Linked DNA regions of Homo sapiens. The protein of the gene in region 2 purifies or fractionates together with the protein of the main gene of each other region. This does not show direct contact. Each region holds a gene or a part of one and is shown on either strand. Other genes may lie near its edges.

Region 1 (7,027 bases), about 19 Mb from region 2:
AAAATTAGAGAAGTTTCAAGCAAGAGAACCAATAAGTTAAAGGGATTGGACTGTTGTCTTCAGCATGAAAAATATTGTTAAGGTAACTGTTAGTTATGTCTTCAGAGTCTAGGGATAAGGTAATGGATTGGAAGTCTTAAGCCCTGAATGCTAATTCAGTTCTGTCCTGACTAGTGGATTAGTCTTGGGCAGATTTTGGACCTATCTCATGGGTAAAATTAGAGAGCTGAAGAAAATTCTTGGATTCTTTTTATCTCTAAACTTCTGTACTTATTATCATTACTTATAGAAGATTGAAACCTATTTTTACAATAAGAAAAAATAAGTGATTTTTACAGGCAGATAGCAAACTCACAGGACTGATTATCCCAAGATGTTGTTTTGGATAGTATATATTAAATAGCTTCTAAAACCATTTGAATAAAGTAATTTCTTCATTCAACAAAGATTTGAGTGCCTCTTAATGTCAGGTACTATACCAGTCATTTAGGAATTAGCAATAAGAAAATAAACTGAAATGCCTGAACTTATGTTGCTTGTATTCTAGTGGGCAAGACAGACAATAAGGAGACTCAATGAGTAAAATAAATACTATATTTAATGGTGAAAAAGGCTATGGGGTTAAAAAGAGAAAGGGGGATAATAGAGAGGTTGAGAGGTAGGAGGTTAATAAGAGTGTTTCCTTAAAATGTTGAAGACAGTCACATCTTTGGTTCAACACTTAAGAGTTCTTGGATCATGAGTCTGTATTGACCTATGTCCTTGTTTGACATGTGGACCTGTGTGTCTCTCTGAAGGTGAATGTTTTTTTAACTGTTCAATGGAGGTACATGGGAGTGCAAAGGGTTATTTCAGGGAAGCTCTAGGATTGATATGAAAGCTTGTTCTGAGGCAATAGTATATGGAAGTTCAAATAAAAAAATGGTTACTTATACAGGTTTTTGAGCACTTACTTACTGGTAGCTACTGGAAATTTTAACATATAATCCTCGCAACAACTATGTGAAATCATTGCTACTGTCTTCTCTCATTTTTATCCTGACTCAGATTTAGCATTTGCCCAGGGTCACACAGGTTGTTAAGTACCAGAGTCGTAAGTTAAACTTAGGTTTGTCTGATTCTAAAGTCCGTTCCCTTTCCATTTTGCTACTCTGTTGTCTGTACCATACATGAAATGTCTCGTTTCAGAAATATGGACAGGATAAAATGTTGGATAAACTACAGGGATAGAAGCCAGAAGAGATAGGTTTCAAGCTGGTTCTTTACTAATTGAGTGTCCTTTAACAAGTTAGAAAAATCACCCTTGAAGTCATCATTTCTATGTGTAATCCAGCAAGCTATATTACATCATTTTGATATTCTCTTATAGTTCTGAATTTGAAAGGATTGCATTTTACTTATTTCAGTAAACGTTTTACATGAGCATTTGGACAGACTTATTTTGTGTTAAGTAGCAAGTTGTGGTGTGTTAAGGTCTCAGATTGGTATATAGCAGTTCTCCTTTATCTGCAGTTTCACTTTCCACAGTTTCCATTACCCACAGTCAACTGAGGTCCAAAAATATTAAATGGAAAATTTCAGAAATAAACAATTCATAAGTTTTAAATTGTGCTTCATTCAGCGTAGTGTGATCGAATCTCCTGCCATCCTGCTCAGTCCTGTCTGGAACATGAATCATCCTTTTGTCTAGTATGTCCCTGCTGTATATGTTACTGCCCATTAGCCACTTACTAGCCAAATGTATCATCAGAAGGTCAGTAGTAGCCTAATCCTGTATTACAATGCCTGTGTCATTCACCTCACTTCATCTCATTATGTAGGCATTTTATCATGTCACGTCATTACAGGAAGGGTAAGTATTGCACAGTAAGATTTAGAGAGAGGAGACCATATTCACATAACTTTTATTATGTTGTCAAAATTACTCTATTGTTAAACTCTTACTATACCTAATTTATAAATTAAACTTTATCATAGGTATGTATGTATAGGAAAAAATATAGGGGTTGGTACTATATGCAATTTCAGGGAGCCACTGGAGGTCTTAGAACACATTCTCCACAGATAAAGAGGAACTACTATAGTTTATTTTTAGTTCTTTAAATAGGTAAACATTTATTTAATCACCTCATTTGTTATTTTACATGAAGTCTTAATTTTTGAAAGGACTCTTATTTAAATAGTTCATCTGAGCCTCATGATAAATTGGAATTTTTCCTGACTATTGCTGTTCTAGAGAAAAGTTTAAAATATACTTGAAGTTAATTTTTAGATTCTTGAATACTTCACTCTTGTTTAGGTCATACCAAGAAGTTACATTAAATGATTATTGTTTTTAATATCATTCTTTTCTGGAACTTTTGTTTTATAATAGTTGCTCTCCTTTGGCGAAAGGCAGTGTGTGTTCATCAGTAAAGTTGTGGTACACATGAGATCAGTTTTTGCAAATTCTTCAACAAGCTCTCCTGCTCTAGGATCAAGGATAGACCTTGACAAGGTCCAAACCATAATGGAGTCCATGGGGTCAAAGTTATCTCCTGGAGCTCAGCAGTTGATGGATATGGTTAGGTGTCAGCAGCGGGTAAGTAGAAATGGATTTCTTTCCAGATAACATTAATGATTTCAAAACCATTGCTTTTAGTAAAGAAATGTAGTGACTTAAAATTTTTCTTTCATACTGATTTAACTGTTATCTTTTAGTTTTGTAGAAGTTAACATTTGTTAGATTTGCCCTTCTACAAAGTGTTTTGACTACACATTTTCACACTTTTTATGAATGCATTCATTCATTCAGCAAGATTTTTTTCTTGCAGTAAACAAGGCACTGGTTTGAGCAATTTTGAGTGTGCGAAGATGGTCAGTTAATCTGTAGTCTTTAAGAATTTTTACATTCTGGAGCATGTAAGTGGGGAATGATGAAAACACTAAGGAAAGGCTCACTAAAAGAAGTGGTATTTTATCTAGGCCTTTAAAATGTAGGGTGGGATTAGACAAGTAAATTTGGAAGAAGGCCATTTCAGACAAAAAATAAGGTGAATAAAATCTTCAATGCTAGAAGAATTTGATATAGCTGGGAAATGAATGGTAGTTCATTTCTCTGAAGCAAAAAAGTAATAGGCAAAGTTTAAAGTAGATTTCAGCTAGATCATAAACAGCTTGGGATGCTGGTTTAAATTTGTAGATGTTTTTGACTTATGTTTCAAGAAATTTTAAGCCACTGTCAAGTGTAAGGTGAATCTGAAGAAAGTGAGACTACAAGGAGAAGATGAGCTGCACGTCATTCCCCTCGTCCAGATGAGAGTGAATGAGGTCTAAGATTGGACGTAGTAACATAATGCTGGATGCTAAATGATGCTAAAATGATGGAGCCATTGGGACTTGACAGCTAACTTAATATTGGTATTATGATAGAAAAATCAAGTTAAACATGAAATTGAGGCTTTGAAGATGGTGATACTAATAATATAAATGCAGCCCAAAGGAGGAGGATGCTTGGAGGAAAAAGGAATTTAATTTTGGGAACATTGACTTTTAGCTGTGAATAAGACATTCCCTGGAAGGATGTTGCAAACATCTGGAAACAGAGGATTAGGAGAAATGGAATGAACCTTCAGTGGCTGGAAGGGAAGTTTAGGGGTGTACCCACAGTAGCTGACGGAGGGTGGTGAAGGGAGAGGAAAAAGGAACCAGAAACATAGAAGGCAGCAGTGTGATAGAGTAGCAAGAGAAACGATTTGATGTCAGGTAAAGTGACTTCAAACTCTTGTCCTGCCTCTTCTTAGTTCTGCATCCTATGGCAAGTTAATTAATATTTTTTTCAATATGAATTCCTCATGTACAAAATCTAAATGATAACACTGTAAGGATCACAGAATTGATGTGAAAATTTAAAATAAGTAATGCAAGTAAAGAACTCCTTGTAGATGTTGTGTGGTTCACAAATATTAATGTAGTACCAGTATTATAATATGGGCTGAGTTAAGAGAACCAGGAGAGCTGAAGATTATGGAAACCACAGAAAGAAGAATTTCAAAAAAGATGGAAATGTATACTTTTCTTCCTCCCACACCATGTTCTCACCTGGATACCTCAGGAGATTCCTAACTGGCCCACCTGTCCTGCTACAATCTGTTTTCCACAATGTACCGAGAATGACCTCAAAGGATAATTGGATCTCATCCTTCTCCTGTGCAAAGCCCCCTGACTGCTTGCCTCCCTTTGTACTTAGAATTAATCCTGATTCCTTACCTTAATCTCTAAAATGTAGGCCCTGCTTGCCTTCTCAACCTCATCTCCTGCCATGTTTCCTTGGGCAGCTTGCTCCAGACATTCTGATATGTGTATTCCGTAAATATCTAGATATGTTCCCACCTCCAGACCTTTGCACTCATAACTGTTCTCTGTGGCCAGAACTCCCTCCCTGTGATACTTCTGTATCTGCATTTTTCTTATTCAGATCTCATTTTAATGTTACATCTTTAATGACACCTTTCTTAGCCAACCAGTGTAAAGTAGCATGTACCTCCAAATCCGTATCAGTTTCATCAGTGCCCTTTTGACCACTTTGTTGTTGTTTTTGTATTGGTTGCATGTTTATCTCACTAAAAGACAAGCTTCATGTAAACAAGACTTATCTGTCTTGTTTATGGCTCCAAGTATTATACACAGTCATGCATCAATTCACAGTGGGGATATGTTCTGAGAACAAAGGTGATTAGGGGATTTCATGGTTATGAAACCATCATGGTATGTACTTGCAGAATCCTAGATCATATAGCCTACTACGTACCTAGGTTACGAACCTGTATAGCATGTTACTTTACAGAATACTCTAGGCAGTTATAATGGTAAGGATTTGTGTATCTAAACATAGAAGAGGTACTGTAAAAATATAGTATACAAGATGAAAAATGGCACGCCTGTATAGGGCACTTACCATGAACTGAACTTGCAGGACTAGAAGTTACTCTAGGTAAGTCAGTAACTGAATATGAAGGCCTAGAACATTACTGTACACTACTGTAGACTTTATAAACACTGCACATTTAGGCTATGCTAAATTTCTTTAAACATTTTTTATTTTTCAATAATAAATTAAGCTTAGCTTATTGTAACTTTTTTTTTTTTATTTTTTGCGACAGAGTCTTCCTCTGTCATCTGGGCTGGAGTGCAGTGGTATGATCTCAGCTCACTGCAACCTCTGCCTCCTGGGTTCAAGCAATTCTCCTACCTCAGGCCCCTGAGTAGCTGGATTACAGGCGCATGCCACCACACCAGACTAATTTTTTTATTTTTAGTAGATACGGTGTTTCACCATGTTGGCCAGGCTGGTCTCGAACTCCAGGTTCTCAGGTGATCACCTGCCTTGGCCTCCCAAAGTACTGGGTGGGATTACAGGCGTGAACCACCATGCCCAGCCTATCGTAACTTTTTAACTTTATATACTTAAATTTTAAAAAACTTTTTGACTCTTTTGTAGTAAAGAGCTTAAAACACAAACTCATTGTATAGCTGTACAAATATATTTGGTTTCTTTATATCCTTTTTCTATTAAGCTTTTTTTGTATTTAATTTTTTTTTAAGTTTTAAACTTTTTTGCTTAAAACAAAGACACAAACATACACATTACCCTAGGCCTACAGAGGGTCAGGATCATAAGTATCACTGTCTCCCACCTCCATATCTTGTCCCACTGGAAGGTCTTCAGGGACAGTAATACCCATGGAGCTGTCATCTTGTATAATAATAATGCCTTCTTCTGGAAGACCTCCTGAAGGACCTGCCTGAGGTGGTTTTACAGTTAACTTTTAAAACATATAAGCAGAAGGAATATACTTTAAGACTAAAAATATGGTATAGTAAATACATAAACCAGCAACATAGTCATTGATTATTATTACTAAGTAGTATACAGTATACATAATTGTACATGCTATACTTTTATATGACTGGCAGTGTGCAATCGGTTGGTTTACACCAACATTGCCACAAACATGTGAGTAATGTGTTACTATGATACCACTTGGGGACTGGAATTTTTTAGCTCCATTGTAATCTTATGGGACCACTGTCATATGTGGGTCCATTGTGGACCAAAACATTGTAATGTGACACATACATATATCTATCTATACATACATATATATATACGTATATATACATGCATATATCTATATACATATATATATACACATATATACACGCATATATCTATATACATATATATATATACACATATATATACACACACACCTATTGGATTGATCAGCTATTTCTTGGAGATCCTCAGGGAGTAAGTTTGAATAGTGATGAGATGTAAACCAAATTGTGAGGGATTAGGTAGTAACTGGGTATTTGGGATGTGGAGTTACTAAGTGCACACAGGTTTTTTTTTTTCAAGTTTAGAGATAAAGAGGAAATTAGATACTTGTGTAAAGGAATATTGAAGATAAATAAGGAATTTGAAAAGCTTGTGAGATTTGAGCTTTATTAAGAATTTATTTAGGGCAGTGTATTTTTTCAAGTACACTCCATTGAACACCTGTGTCAGAATCCTTTGGAAGGTCTTCAAAATGCAGATTCCTGGCCCTCACTATCTACTCAATCCCAGAGGGTGGGGTCCAGGAATCAGTGTTTTAAACAGTCATGTCTAAGTGAGTTTTATGTACATTGTGATTTGATAATAACTCTTTTTTTTAATTATTATTATACTTTAAGTTTTAGGGTACATGTGCACAATGTGCAGGTTTGTTACATATGTATACATGTGCCATGCTGGTGCGCTGCACCCACTAACTCGTTATCTAGCATTAGGTATATCTCCCAATGCTATCCCTCCCCCCTCCCCCCACCCCACAACAGTCCCCAGAGTGTGATGTTCCCCTTCCTGTGTCCATGTGTTCTCATTGTTCAATTCCCACCTATGAGTGAGAATATGCGGTGTTTGGTTTTTTGTTCTTGTGAGAGTTTACTGAGAATGATGGTTTCCAATTTCATCCATGTCCCTACAAAGGACATGAACTCACCA
Region 2 (7,027 bases):
GAGACTAAGGAGGAAATTCTTTTCACAGAGAAGCTCAGAGCCGAACCAATCCTTGGCTGTAGAGAAGGAGGAGCTTTCAGAGTTTGCTGGTTCCAAGCTTTTTTCTGTTACTTAAATTTAAAGCTGGAACAGAAGGTCAAGAAACAGGAAGGAAAACCGTATCAAGATATCAAGTCATGGTATTCTTTTTCATTCTTACAGAAAAGAATTCACAAGAGACTTGAGGAAGCTTTTTTATTTTTATTTTGTTCTGTTTATTTATTTATTTTAAGATGGGGTCTCACCCTGTTGCCCAGGTTGGTCTCAAACTTCTGGGCTCAAGTGATCTGCCCACTTCGGCCTCCCAAATTGCTGTGATTACAGGCATGAGCCACTGCGCCTGGCCAATTTTTTTTTTTTTTTTTTTTTTGCGACAAGGTCTTTCTCTAGAGTGCAGTGGCATGTTCACAGCTTAGTGCAGCCTTGACCTCCCAGCCTCAAGTGATCCTTCCACCTCAGCCTCCTTAGTAGCTAGGACTACAGGCATCACTAGGACTACAGGTGCCACCACCACGTCCAGCTAATTTTCGTATTGTTTGTAGAGACGGGGTTTCACCGTGTTTCTCAGGCTGGTCTCAAACTCCTTGGCTCAAGCAATTTAAGGAAGCTTTTCATTAGAGTCTAAAAATACATATTTGAATTGAATGACACAGGGTTGACACTAGTCAGAGAATTAGGAAAATGTGATATGCGTGTTAGTTCCAGTGCAAACCGGAGAGCCCGTTAACCTCCCTGGGACTGGGTTTCCTCCTCTGCACAGCAAGGCTCCCCTGTCCTTCCCCATGGGAGACAAGAATCACATCACCAGCATGTTTTCCTCTCCCCTTTGGCTGCCAGGAAACTCAAGAGTCAAATTCAAGGCTTTATTGAAGGAACTCTGCAGGACCCAGGACGTGATATCTTGATACTGTTTTCCTTCCTGGTTTTTGACCTTCTGTTCCAACTTGCGTTTTCCCTGATTATAGCATTTTATTATTTTTCATATTTAGTATGTAGTGCACATTTTTACACTACACTTCTAATCCTTTGTGTAATGATCATGGTAGAAATAAATGGTGAAATGAGGAGGTCCCACTTAGATGAGTTTCAGGGGTCCTTCCAGTCCCAATTTTCCAGGATTCTTAAGGGGAAAAAGTAATTTTACATGTCTGGAAGGTTCCAGGTTTGCACAGAAGGGAACTCTCCTATCGAGAGTCCTGAGGACTTCAGCAGACCTCCAGGGAGGCCTGTCCAGGATGTTCTCCTACGTCTGTAAAGGAGTGAGCACTTTGTGCTAGTTTAGGGAAAGACAGCTTTTCTGTTGGGATTTTAGACTTACCCTGCTTGAAATTGGTGGAAAAATACCTGTCTGGGATGGGGCTCAATAATCTGCAGCTGTATTAGGAAATGCAAGTAGTTTTGATGTGGGTGGTTTCAAGACATATTTGGAAAATGTGAGGGAAATGTGTATGTGCATTTGCTGAGCGGGGGACTGGTGAAGGATCACCGATCCATTTATTCCTAATGCTCATCTCAGCTTTTTATTGTGCCGAGTACCTTGATAAGGCTTGGGTTATTTTATGAGCGTTTATATATAAATTGATAGTGTCCATCAGATCATGTATATTTAGAGGCATGCTCCTACTTTGAGTAAATGGAAAGCTTTAGAGATATACACTAAATAAACATCAGTTACTAATTAAAAATTCCCTCCTCACTTTACCAAAGGACCCACCATGGGTTCCATTAAATGTCTATTTATGGTTTGTTTTGACAAAGACTTTTCCAAGAACACCTCTGTTCTGTAAAGCAGAAGAGCTGTGTAGATGTTCCAGAGTCGCTTGGTGTAAATTTGGTTCTGATTTGTGCCGTGAAGCCCAATAACAAACTGGAGGCACACATTTCAAAGCCAGTGGTAAGAGTTTGAGTAGTGATCATCTATTCCTGAACATAAAGTCTGGAGCCTTCTGGAATCCATAAAAATGGAATGATTTGTTCCTTTCCCCTCTAACCAAATTTTATTCATACCTGGCTATAAATAGCTTCTGTTTTGAGTTTTCACTGGTCAGACCCTGCTGTTTTAGTGCCATCCTGTTAGCTTCCTTGAACAAGGTAATGCCACCTAACATGTTTTTTCAGACTTCCAGGACAATGATCAGGGGGACTTCTCTATGCCACACTGGGAGGTGTGAAGGTGTAGGCTTTAGGGCAACCCCTCTGAGAAGGGGTGGCAGGTGGAGGAGCCCATTGATCCTTTCTATCAGGGATGGATTTGCTTTCTGTGGGTGTCACCTTCAGGGGCCTGTGTTCCCACTCATCACAGGAGCTCATATTTACTCAGTGGGGCCAGAGTGTTCTTCATACATGGTGATTTTACTCCTCACCATAACCTCCGTGGTGCGTGCTAACATGACCACCATTTTGCAGATGAGAACATGGAGGCTTGCAGGGGAGGTAAGTTGCCCCAGGTTCCATGCTGAATCAGAGGTCAAGCTCAGCACACAGCACAGGACCAAGTCTGCTGGTTCCCAAGCTCACATCCTTACCTACAACTCTGAATCACCCCACAGCAGAGTCAACAAGCTGGCCTGGCATGTGAAGAAGCAAGCCTGGGTGTCTCCTGGCTGCCAGTGCCATCCCTGCCCCGGGACCCTAATCCACAGTTTGATTCTGGTCCTTTTGCCCTCTGTCCCTCACCAGAACCCTGATATTTCCAGATGAAAACACGAGTATAGCTTATTTCCACAACTCACCTGGGCCCAGCAATCAAGATCTATAGCTATAGGGAAGTATTGAGTTGATTATGAGTTATATAGGTCAAAATGAGTAGCTTGCTTGATTGAAGCAGGTAATTCGTGCCATACTTTTCTCTTTGGGAAGACCTGTACCAACAATAACCTCTGCTAAACACTTTCGCTTTTTTAAATTTGCAGGTACTTTTTTGGGGCTGTCTTTGGCTGCCTGTCTGTTGAGAGTTTGTTTTCTTTACAGTCCATCTGATTTACAGTCCCTCCGGGTTGATTTGTCTCATTTGGGAATGAGAAATTTTATTTTAATGCATTAAGTAATAGTGTTGAGTGGCCAACAAATGTGAAGTTTGAAAAGCTCAAATGAAAAAAAAAGTGTGATAGAAACACAGAGTTGGGGGCCGGGTGCAGTGGCTCACACCTGTATTTCCGGCACTGTGGGAGGCCAAGACAGGAGGATCCCTTGAGCTCAGGAGTTTGAGACCCCTGGGCAACATGGCAAGACCCCAAGACCCCATCTCTACAAAAAAAATGTAAAAATCAGCCAGGGGTAATCCCAGCTACTTGGGAGGCTGAGGTGGAAGGATTGCTTGAGCCCGGGAGGTTGAGGCTGCAGTGAGCTGTGATCGATCTACTGGACTCCAGCCTGAGTGACAGAGCAAGACCCTATCTAAAAAAAAAAAAAAAAAAAAAAAAAGAAGAAGAAGAACACAGGTTGGAATTTGAGGGGGCCTGTTAAATAGGATGCTCTTTCCTGCCTTAGTTTTGAATTAATTGAGAAGATAAAATAATAAGGCATGGAGATTAGAGCATCCCCTTTCTTTTTTTCTTTTTCTTTTCTTTTTTCTTTTTTTCTTTTTTACTTTTTGCTCTTCTTGGCCAGGCTGGAGTGCAATGGCACAATCTTGGCTCACCACAACCTCCGCCTCGCGGGTTCAAGCAATTCTCTTGCCTCAGCTTCCCCAGTAGCTGGGGTTACAGCCACGTGCCATGATGCCCAGCTAATTTTGTATTTTCAGTAGAGACGGGGTTTCTCCATGTTGGTCAGGCTGGTCTCGAACTCCCCACCTCAGGTAATCCACCCGCCTCGGCCTCCCAAAGTGCTGGGAATACAGGCATGAGCCACCAGGCCCGGCAGCATCCCCTTTCTTATTGATAAAGCAGATCTTGGAGAATGGGAGATCCTGAGCGGGGTTCCTAATGCTAGCCTTCAACATCAGGCTGAGGCTCACCTTGTCTTCAAGTAATGGGCAGTGCTGGCCTGAAGGGGAGCCTCCTCTGTCCAGGGCTCAGCTTATCCTTGGAAGGCTTAGCACATTGAGGAGCTGCTCCAGGCTAAGAGGGAGGGACTGGGGTACTCTGTAGAGGTTGTTCTTCCAGTTTCTTCAATCAGATGAGCCACACTGTCACTCTAGTGTTGAAAGGAGGGAAGGGACAGAGGTGGCCAGGAGTGTGACCCTAAAAGAGGCAGAGGAGACCTCAGAGAAAGAGAAGAAGCATTCTCCTAACCAGAGGGAGAAGGAGAGAGGCCTCAGTTCTCCCTCTCTGGGAATTAATTTGAGATTTACATTTAGTGTCTATAAACATGTCAGCAGATATATAAACTTATTTGCTTTTGCTTTGTTTCCATTTTTAGATTCTTGAGTATCAGAACACCACCTTCTTTGGTGGAACCTGTATATCCATGATTGATTACCTCCTCTGGCCCTGGTTTGAGCGGCTGGATGTGTATGGGATACTGGAGTAAGACATTTGACATTGTGGTGTTAAATTCCCGGAGTCACACTGAGTAACAATGGTTAAGATGGTCTGCATGCCCCCTGTAGACATGTTTCAGGATGTCTGTGAAGTGAATCAGGTTTCTAAACCGCAGTGTGTGCTTCCTTGTTAAAAACATATGTGCTTTTCCACTGCTAACTTCAGACCCACACTTTGCCCGCATTTCTGCAGATCAGACCCCTAGCCCAGGAGCCTCCCGCAGACTTCAGAGCCTGCTGTCCTCACCAGCGCCCCCACATGGCCGGTCTGAGAGCAAGTGGAGAGTCACAGTCACAGTCACAGTGCCCAACGCCTCCACCTGGTCCTGACGGGTCCCCAGGGGACACCATATAACCTTAGTCATGTCTCATTGCCCGGAGGAATCTTCCCCCAGATAGGAATAACCTTATAAAAAAGATTTGTGTAGTAATATATGCTTGATATTGGAACATACAAACAAAATGGCAGTGACACACTATGGAAGTATGGAAGTGCAGGGACATTAAAGGAGAAGAAATAGCTGTGTAGGCTCCTGGGCAGAGCAGTGCTGTGTTACTTCAAAGCTCAGTGAAGCTGGACGTGTGCGGACGTCCACCCTAATCCAAGCCACCCTCATGGTGGGTGCTGGACATTTCTGGCACTTGGAAATCCGGCCCTGCTGAAGCAGAACTGTGTCTGCACCTTCATAACCCGTGGGCTGGAGCCCAACCAGCCACTGTCTCCTGCACTTCCGACTTCAGCTCTCTTTGTCAGGATATTTAAAACTCAATATCAAACATAAAATTTACAAAAGGCTGTATCCTCTGAAGACAGAGCATGGAGTCACAGGTTAGGAAACCTCACTTCTAGTCCTGGATTCCCGACAACCCATTCATATTATCTTCAGCTTATTGCTTTATAAACCCCAGAACTAAATATCCTGGTTGAGCTTTGAAAGAGCCCTGTCGGCTCCATGACTTCAAGGTTTCATCCTTGTTTTATTCATTTAAAAAATGTTTTAGAAATTATTTGTCTTTATTTTTTTATATCTCCTAAAGTAAAATCTGAGAATGACCCAAGAATATTTGTTTCAGAGGGTTGTCTTTTTGTTGGCAAGCAGTGAAGCACATGTAAGTTTCTCAAGCTTTAGAATATATATATATTAAAAAACAAAACAAAAAAAATGAAGCACAGACATGTTATTTTCCCAGAGCCATCAGTCCAAAGTATTTCACTGTATTATTAGAAGCAACAACTTCTAAACATTCAACTATTCCAAAAATAAGATTTTCCTCCAGTAAGTTATCATTCTCACTTGATAATAAGATAACTAAGATAACTTCCCAAATAAACTCATTCTTCATATCTTGCAAATCTAAAAAGCAACGTGCATCCCCTTTCCTGATGCCTACCCCTGCACTGTGCTGACGCTTCTTTCCTGTCTTGCAGCTGTGTGAGCCACACGCCAGCCCTGCGGCTCTGGATATCAGCCATGAAGTGGGACCCCACAGTCTGTGCTCTTCTCATGGATAAGAGCATTTTCCAGGGCTTCTTGAATCTCTATTTTCAGAACAACCCTAATGCCTTTGACTTTGGGCTGTGCTGAGTCTCACTGTCCACCCCTTCGCTGTCCAGAATTCCCCAGCTTGTTGGGAGTCTACGTCACGGCTTGTCTTGGGAACCAATCCGTCTCTCTTTCTTTTCTTTGAAGTTCCCAATAAAATGAAAACAGGAAATGTATTCTTCTGATAATCATTTGTCTGACTCCTCTAGCCTGTAGCTGCTGCTACTGCTGCTTTTTTTTCCTTTTTTTTTTTGAGGCAAGATCTTGCTTCGTTACTCAGGCTGGAGTGCAGTGGGACAGTCGGCTCACTGCAGCCTTGAACTCCTGGGCTCAGTTGATTCTCCCGCCTCAGCCTCCTGAGAAGCTAGGACTACAGGTATGTGTCACCACGCCCAGCTAATTTTTAAAAAAATGTTGTTGAGACAGGGTCTCACTATGTTGCTCAGGCTGGTCTCCATCTCCTGGCCGCAAGCCATCCACCCAACTTGGTCTCCAAAGTGTTGAGATTACAGGCATGAGCCACCTGGCCTGCCTAGCCTGTAGCTTCTAACTATTTTCTAGAAAGTGCCTGGTGCTAATGTCAGAGCACATTTTGGGAGCCTGTGTGCCTCCTAACTCCTTGGCCTTCAGCCTAGTTTGATCTCCAGATTATTGGTGCAGATGCTGATGCTGAGGTTCAGGGTCAACCTATGACTGATGCTTGTCACTACAGAATGGCACCCTCCAAAGACCTCCCTGGTGAAAGCTTAAGAAGAGGGAGAAGGAAGAAGAAAACACTCCAAACCTAAATACCTTCCATTTGGCAAATGAATGTCGCTGTCCACGTGGGCGAGTATGAGTGTAATTCTCCAAACTTTGGCCATGGGCCTGGAGACACCGAGGGTCTTGTGACTGGAAAGAATTCCAAAGCAGGAAATGAAACACCGGTTTATCACCCAGGACTAACTACGTCAGAATTTCA
Region 3 (6,958 bases), about 21 Mb from region 2:
AAGTCTCTTTTACATCATAGCTCTGTAAAAATTCGGCTTAAAACTAGGTCTTCTAGACAGTTTTCTAGTATAGTTGGAATTCCTTCAGAGGTCTGGCTGGTGTGGGAGCGGGTTCTGGCCACCATGGAGGGCCTGCAGGGAGCTGGCCGAATCTCCAGTGCACCTGCCCCCAGGCCTACGCAGCAGACCTACCTACAATGGTGTCATGCACAGAAGTCCAGACCTTCACCTCACCTCGAAAGAGCCTGTTTTATCTGTTACACTGTCTTGAAATTGAAAATATGAATTATGAACGAAAACAGCCTTGTGCACTGTAGCCATTACAAAGAACAGGGGATGTTTGTGTGTAACTGGACAAGAGCCATGTAGCAGCAGCAATAAGTAAAATATTCTAGGGAGAATTTAGTGGACAGCAGAATTTTACTTTTAATGTTTTGAGCTTTGCTTTGTAAAGTTTATTAATTTTAGACTGAGTTCAAATCAAAACTCAATGTGAAGAATGGAAATTGGAAAAATACAAAGACATTTTAAATAAATAGTTTATTTATTCAAAATAGTTTTCTTACCTTATTCACAGTTTCAAGTTTGAAATGAAAAAAAGGGGTAGTACCTGTTCTTGATCAACTGTCATATAAAGTCAAAAGTGAATCCTTTCAGAACATGCATTAAATACAGCAAATTGCACAACAGCTCGTCTTTGAAAAATCCTGCACTGAAGCTTATGAAGAACACACCTTTTTTCTGGACAATTTAAAAGGAAACACTGTAGATGTACAGGAGGTCTCCTTAACCCACTTGAACCTGTAATGTCATCTGGATAAAAGTTCTCTTGACCAAAGTAACATTTTATCCAAAATAATCATATCTTAGACCCGTGTAGCTTGACATACTTCAAAAATACGTGAAAGTGTAACTGCATCACAGCAGGTCTGTTAATACCGAGGTACTACATACTTCTCAAAGACATAAATAGTGGAAGCTTTAAGTTTGATTCTGATGTTAGCACTTCAAGTGAAGAAGCCACAGAACTCAACCGTAATTTGTCTGTCACTTAAAATAACTCTGTGTTTCCACTGATATACCTGTTTTAAATGGATATTTCCCTATTATTTAATGAAACAAAGCACCGAATGAACAAACCGGCTCCGTGTTGAAGGCACTGACAGCGTGTCTGGGACACGGCTCTGTGCAGTCACTGAACGGCATTGCTGCTCGCTGCACTGCCGGCGGCAAGCTGGCCCAGCAGGTGGACGATAACGTTGATTCTTTCCAGAAGAGTCGCGGTTTTATTTGCAGTTGCTCTCAAAAGCTGGGAGTAAATGTGCTTGTTGGTTTTGAGAATTGTGTCATCTTCGATGTTATTGCTAGGGTTAAAAAAGAAAAAGAGACAGGTAAGGGACCAGCAATGCCTACCGACAATTCAGAGGTCCAGAAAACCGGACAGTGACAGCCCAACAGTCACTCTTCACAGAGCAGCAGGCATTCCTCTCCTGCCGGGTTCAGACCTGCCTTCTTTTACATATTGCTCATGGGCCTGTTTCTACACATTTATTTCAATACATCAATGAAATCCAGTACTCATTCCTTTTATAAATATTTGAATGCCTATTATGTACTAGGAATTGCTCTTGACAGAGAACAAAACAGGCAAAAAGAAGCCCCTGCCTTATGGAATTTGCATCCTATTGAGGTAGGAGTTTGGGGGAGGGGAGGGGAGGCACTGGGGGAAACCATAGTAAACAAGAGAGTGACAGACGGACGGCCATGAAGAAAATGCAGTGGAGCCGGGTGAGGGCACAGAAGGAGCTATGCAGTATTTCCTCTGTTCCTCAAGCTCGGCCTAAGCGCCTTCCTGTGTCATAAACACACATCTAAAGCCACTGTTGTACTGCCGTCTCTAGAGCTAGAACTACCTAGGATTTAAACATGGATTCCTGAATTACAAGAACTGCTGCATCTCAGTTTACTCTGAAAATGTCAGTGCAATTCTGTGTGAAGACTGCCCCTCAGCTGAAGAGTACTAGACAGTACTCTACCTGAAAACTATTTCAGTTTACAGTTTGTCCTGAAAACATTTACCCCTTATGATGGATCGGTGAATTCTATTTTTGTTACTACTGGAAAAGACTAGTAATTACGTGGCAGTTCATATCTAGCATCTTTTTTTTTTTTTTTAAATGAGTCCAGGTGGAGACCCCTGGCTCACATAACCAGATACCAGGTAACAATTCCACAACTCTTTTCAGTGTCCATGAACACATCTGAGCCTTACAATAATCCCATCCCCTCAGATAGGCAAGGACTAGCATTTTGAATTTACAGATGTAAAACCTAAGGCCCAGAAGGGTTAACAGTTTGGACTAAGGTCAAAATGTCATGTTTTCCAATTTCAAATGCTATGCTCTTTCACCTCTTCAGGGTACAAATTTTCTCCCTTCACCCAAGGGCTTGCCAGTCAGGCCTGCCACAGAGCAGCCAGCATGCAGAGCTCCCTTCCCCAGGAGTTCCCCTTTCTATTATTCCTGGCTCCATTCCTCCTCCACAGGATCCCCATCGCTGCCTTTAGACATTTCTCCCCTCCAATTCCCACTTATTTTATCAGGCAAATCTCCTCCTGCCTTCCCCCAACAACCACAGTACAGCAAGTGACTGTTCCAAATGCATTCCCTATCTGTAATCTGGGCCTAAGATTGGCTAGATTTTAGTTTTGTGGGGAGTTAACAGTCACAAAACCTTTGATAATCTTATAGAAAATTTAAATTACTCTGACAGTAATCAAGGCATTAGCACTTAACAATTAGAAAAGGCATTTGAAAGATGACTTATTCTTTGTGGACAATGACATCACACTGTCATTTTATTAATAGTTGGGTGCCTAAAGATAATTGATGGCTGCAGGGATCATAAACTTAAAATCTTTTGATTTGTCCTAACCATAACTCTGAATCTTAAATCTTCATCTTCCAATTTCTACAAATCACGCCTTCCTTAATGCATTCTTATCAGCAGTTTCACTGACCTATGACCCCTATTCAGAGGGCTCCATCATCTCACAGGCTTTTTCTAAAGGGAACTAACTTACATTCTTTCATCTCCCTTTTTACTAATCTTAACAAAATATTAAATGTACACATCTAATGGGAACAACCCATGAATCCAAAGGATCTGTTCTTAGCACTGCAGCAGAGAGCTCCCTGAATCTTCAGAGATTACTTCTACTTTTTATGGTATTTCATTATATTAAACCGCAAAGCCACCAAAATGTTAAGAGGCCTGGATCTGTGAAAGCAATGAATATTAAAATACAGTAGAAGAGTAAATTCTAAATTCAAAAAGAGAAAAGAGAAAACCTTTGGCCTAACAAACTGCTACTGCTAGAATTTCTAGCAGGTCAATGCCAATGCAGTTGTCATATGATGATGAAATGCCTGCATCACCTGAAAATGAAAACAAAAATTTTTTTTAAACAAGTAAAATGCATCTTTCACTCTAATTCTATAGGAATCTAATAAACTTAAGATTTTAATTATTAAGCCTTGTTTATTTTTTTGCCAGAGGGCATGAAGTGGAAAAAGCAGTAGTCAAAAAATAAAACAAAAATTTGTTTAACATGGCCTCTCAGTATCTGTGGAGGATTGGTTCCAGGACCCTCCAGGAAACTAAAATTTGAGGAGGCTGGAGTCCCTGATATAAAATGGTGCAGCATTTGCATTTAGGCTGTGTACATCTTCCTATATACTTTAAATCAACTCTAGATGACTTATAATACCTAATACAATGTCAATGCCATATAAATAGTTGTTATACTATATTGCTTTTTAAATTTGTATTATTTTTTATTTATTTAATATTTTCAGTCTGTGGTTGGTTGAATCTGTGGATGCAGAATCCTTGGATACAGAGGGCTGATTGCATTTTCTTTCTTTTAGGTCTCATTCTGATTTCTCTCTATATTGCAAAAGAGAATGTTCATGTATTCACTGTGAAACAACTAAGCCTGTGGCAGAGGGTATTTTCCTCTTAACAATAAAATTATAGATGTTTTCATTTGCACATCAGTGAAAAATGAAATAGTCACTGACTTAGTAATTAATATTTTTGTTTTGAAACTTGTCAAAGTGTTTATTTTATTAACACATTATCACATTTAAGTTTAATAAACCTTAAAATCAATATAAATTAGCTAAATAAGATTGTATGTGTCATGCATGAAAACTTTAGATTACAATAGTTTTCAGCAGAATATTAATAACCTAAATAAACAGAAGCTTAGAAAACCTTCCATTAAAATAAAAATTACTTAGGTCATACATATGACTGTTACAGTTATAAAAGATAAAACTGAAACTATTACCTATTACCAATTACTCAAATGATTGACTTGTGAAAAATCAATGAATCACTTTTTCTCATGTATCATATATTTATATTACCATCTTGTGGAAACCAATACAAATTTAAAAACTTTACCCACTGCTGTTAGAAAAAGGCAGGAATTCTTTCCAAGCCTTGTTACCATATGCAGTATCTGCTCCGCCTTAGGGCTCTTCAAAAAGATGGATGTCTCTGCTAAATTACAGTGAGTGTATCAACACCCGCTGCTGTGTACCACAACCAGGATATGGTGCAGACACTGTGGATTAACAACCAAATAAGGCCAGGCGCGGTGGCTCACACTTGTAATCCCGGCACTTTGGGAGGCTGAGGCAGGTGGATCATGAGGTCAGAAGATCGAGACCATCCTGGCTAACACGGTGAAACCCCGTCTCTACTAAAAATACAAAAAATTAGCCGGGTGTGGTGGCGGATGCCTGTAGTCCCAGCTACTCGGGAGGCTGAGGCAGGAGAATGGCGTGAACCTGGGAGGCGGAGCTTGCAGTGAGCCGAGATTGCGCCACTGCACTCCAGCGTGGGCGACAGAGCGAGACTCTGTCTCAAAAAAAAAAATAAATAAAAATAAAAACACACACAACCAAATAAAAGCTCTCCTTAGACTATAGAGAATTATTCAAAAGCCATTTTTTTTCTTTTTTTTAAAGAGTTGGGTTTTGCTCTGTCTCCCAGGCTGGAGTGCAGTGGTGCCATCAGAGCTTGCTGTGGCCTTGAACTCCTGGGTTCATGTAATTCTCCTGCCTCAGTCTCCCAAATAGCTGGGATCACAGGTGTAAGCCATGGCACTTAGTTCAAAGGCAATTATTGAAAGAAGTTTCTATTCATGGTGCAGAACCGGAAAAAGTCTCTGGCTCAAGCAGGGCAAACTACAAGGTCATGGCTCTTCTTAAATCCATGAGAGAGGTGGGGCAGCCAACTAGCCTGCAATCTAAGGAGAGACAGGCTGATACAGGGAGAGAAAGGACAGTCCTTCCTTACCTGGGGCAGATGCAGCCAGATGCCAGTAAGCATTTAGCTAAAATAGTGAATGGGTTGGTGGGGGCCCAGTGAGGCTGGTGAGAAAGTATAGGGCCTCTGTGGAGTCAGGGGGTTCACATCTTCTTACTGGCTTTTCTCCAAGGACCTCACCAAATGCCCACATAAAAGACCAGTGAGAATCCTGACAGACTGACCCTCCTGCTGTAGACCTATGACAGGGTAACAGCAGCTGCTATGGGAGGGACCAGCAACCCCACCTGGACCCTTCTCCTCTATGAAACAAAAGACTCAATGGGGGTGGGGGAAGACAATGAACCCTGCCAACCTTAGGGCGTTGGTTAAAGTCAATGAAGAGAGGGGAAGGGAACAGAAAAAAACACTCTGAAGGGTTAGGTGGGGGTGCAGGAGCAGTGGGAAGGCCACAGTCCTGAGACTCAGGGACACGAGTGTCTGCCTGGACTGAGGCTTAAACAACTATGGAGTCCTTGCTAACTCCCTGCTCCCTCCCAAACAGGCGAAAAGGCACCGAAGGACCAGTGACAGTGGAATATGGCTGGAAGAACTGTGAGAGTATAAAGACAGACCCTCTCTAAGGTGCAAAACAAAAGAAAGACCTAGAGCTGAAGGTAGAGAAGACACTAAGAATCACCTTCTGCAGATCTGTTCCACCCTACACACGAGGACTGCTAGGAAAACTTGAAGCCTGTGGTACATGGAAGGTAACCATCGCAATAAAAAAATCTCAACCACAGCTCAACTCCAGGCTAGAAAAATGAATTCCACTTCCCACACTAAAGCCGTAGCAGGGGGAAAGTACAAAAAATTCCAGGCAAAAAAAAAATATTTCTCTTGGTCTCTACTATCATACATAAGGTGTCCAGTTTTCAACAAACAAGAGATATACGGAAGGCAAGGAAAAAACAACATACTTCCAAGAGACAAAGAATCAACAGAACCAGCTAATTATGACACAGATGTTGGAACTATCTCATAGGGAATTTAAAAGGACTATAATTAGTATGTTCAAGACACTAATGGACAAGATGGATGCCACGCAAGGTCAGATTGGTGATTTCAGCAGAGAGCTGGAACTGTAAGAATGAACCCAGGGCAATTGCTAGAAATAAGGAACATTGTAACAGAGACAAAGAATGCCTTCAAAAAGTTCAACTGTAGATGACACAAAACCAAGTAAGGAATCCATGAACTTGAAGACAGTTCAACAGAAATTACCCAAACAAAATCACAAAAAGGAAAAAATGGCATCAAAAAAACCAGAACGGAATATCCAAGAGCTGTGGAATAACATCAAACAGTCTAACATAGGCATAACGGGCTACAGAGGAGGAGAGAGAATGGAACAGAAGAAAGAAAAATGCTGAAGCCAGAGGTAAAAGCCATCACGACACACTCAAGCCTATCATAGTTAAACTGCTGGGGGGTGAGGCGCCTACAGGCAAGGAAGATGCATTTCTAACAGATGAACAAAAGTAGGAAACACAGCTGGCTTCTGGTCAGAAAACACACAGGCCAGAGACAATGGAGTGACATCTTTAAAGTACTGAATGAAAAGGACTGTTAACCCAGA

Evidence for each region.
Region 1: the proteins of GSTO2 (region 2) and C10orf88 purify together in Homo sapiens (affinity purification with mass spectrometry; 2 studies listed by BioGRID and IntAct, with this or other methods). This does not show direct contact.
Region 3: the proteins of GSTO2 (region 2) and EDRF1 purify together in Homo sapiens (affinity purification with mass spectrometry; 2 studies listed by BioGRID and IntAct, with this or other methods). This does not show direct contact.

Annotation. Positions count from the first base shown.
Region 1 is NC_000010.11:122,944,203-122,951,229, reverse strand, and holds part of C10orf88 (ATPase PAAT), read left to right. Parts: intron 1-2,374; coding exon 2,375-2,581; intron 2,582-7,027. UniProt on the Homo sapiens protein: ATPase that regulates mitochondrial ABC transporters ABCB7, ABCB8/MITOSUR and ABCB10. Regulates mitochondrial ferric concentration and heme biosynthesis and plays a role in the maintenance of mitochondrial homeostasis and cell survival.
Region 2 is NC_000010.11:104,293,177-104,300,203, forward strand, and holds part of GSTO2 (glutathione S-transferase omega-2), read left to right. Parts: intron 1-4,401; coding exon 4,402-4,508; intron 4,509-5,951; coding exon 5,952-6,108; 3' UTR 6,109-7,027. UniProt on the Homo sapiens protein: Exhibits glutathione-dependent thiol transferase activity. Has high dehydroascorbate reductase activity and may contribute to the recycling of ascorbic acid. Participates in the biotransformation of inorganic arsenic and reduces monomethylarsonic acid (MMA).
Region 3 is NC_000010.11:125,757,707-125,764,664, reverse strand, and holds the end of EDRF1 (erythroid differentiation-related factor 1), read right to left. Parts: intron 1,365-6,958; coding exon 1,193-1,364; 3' UTR 526-1,192; downstream 1-525. UniProt on the Homo sapiens protein: Transcription factor involved in erythroid differentiation. Involved in transcriptional activation of the globin gene.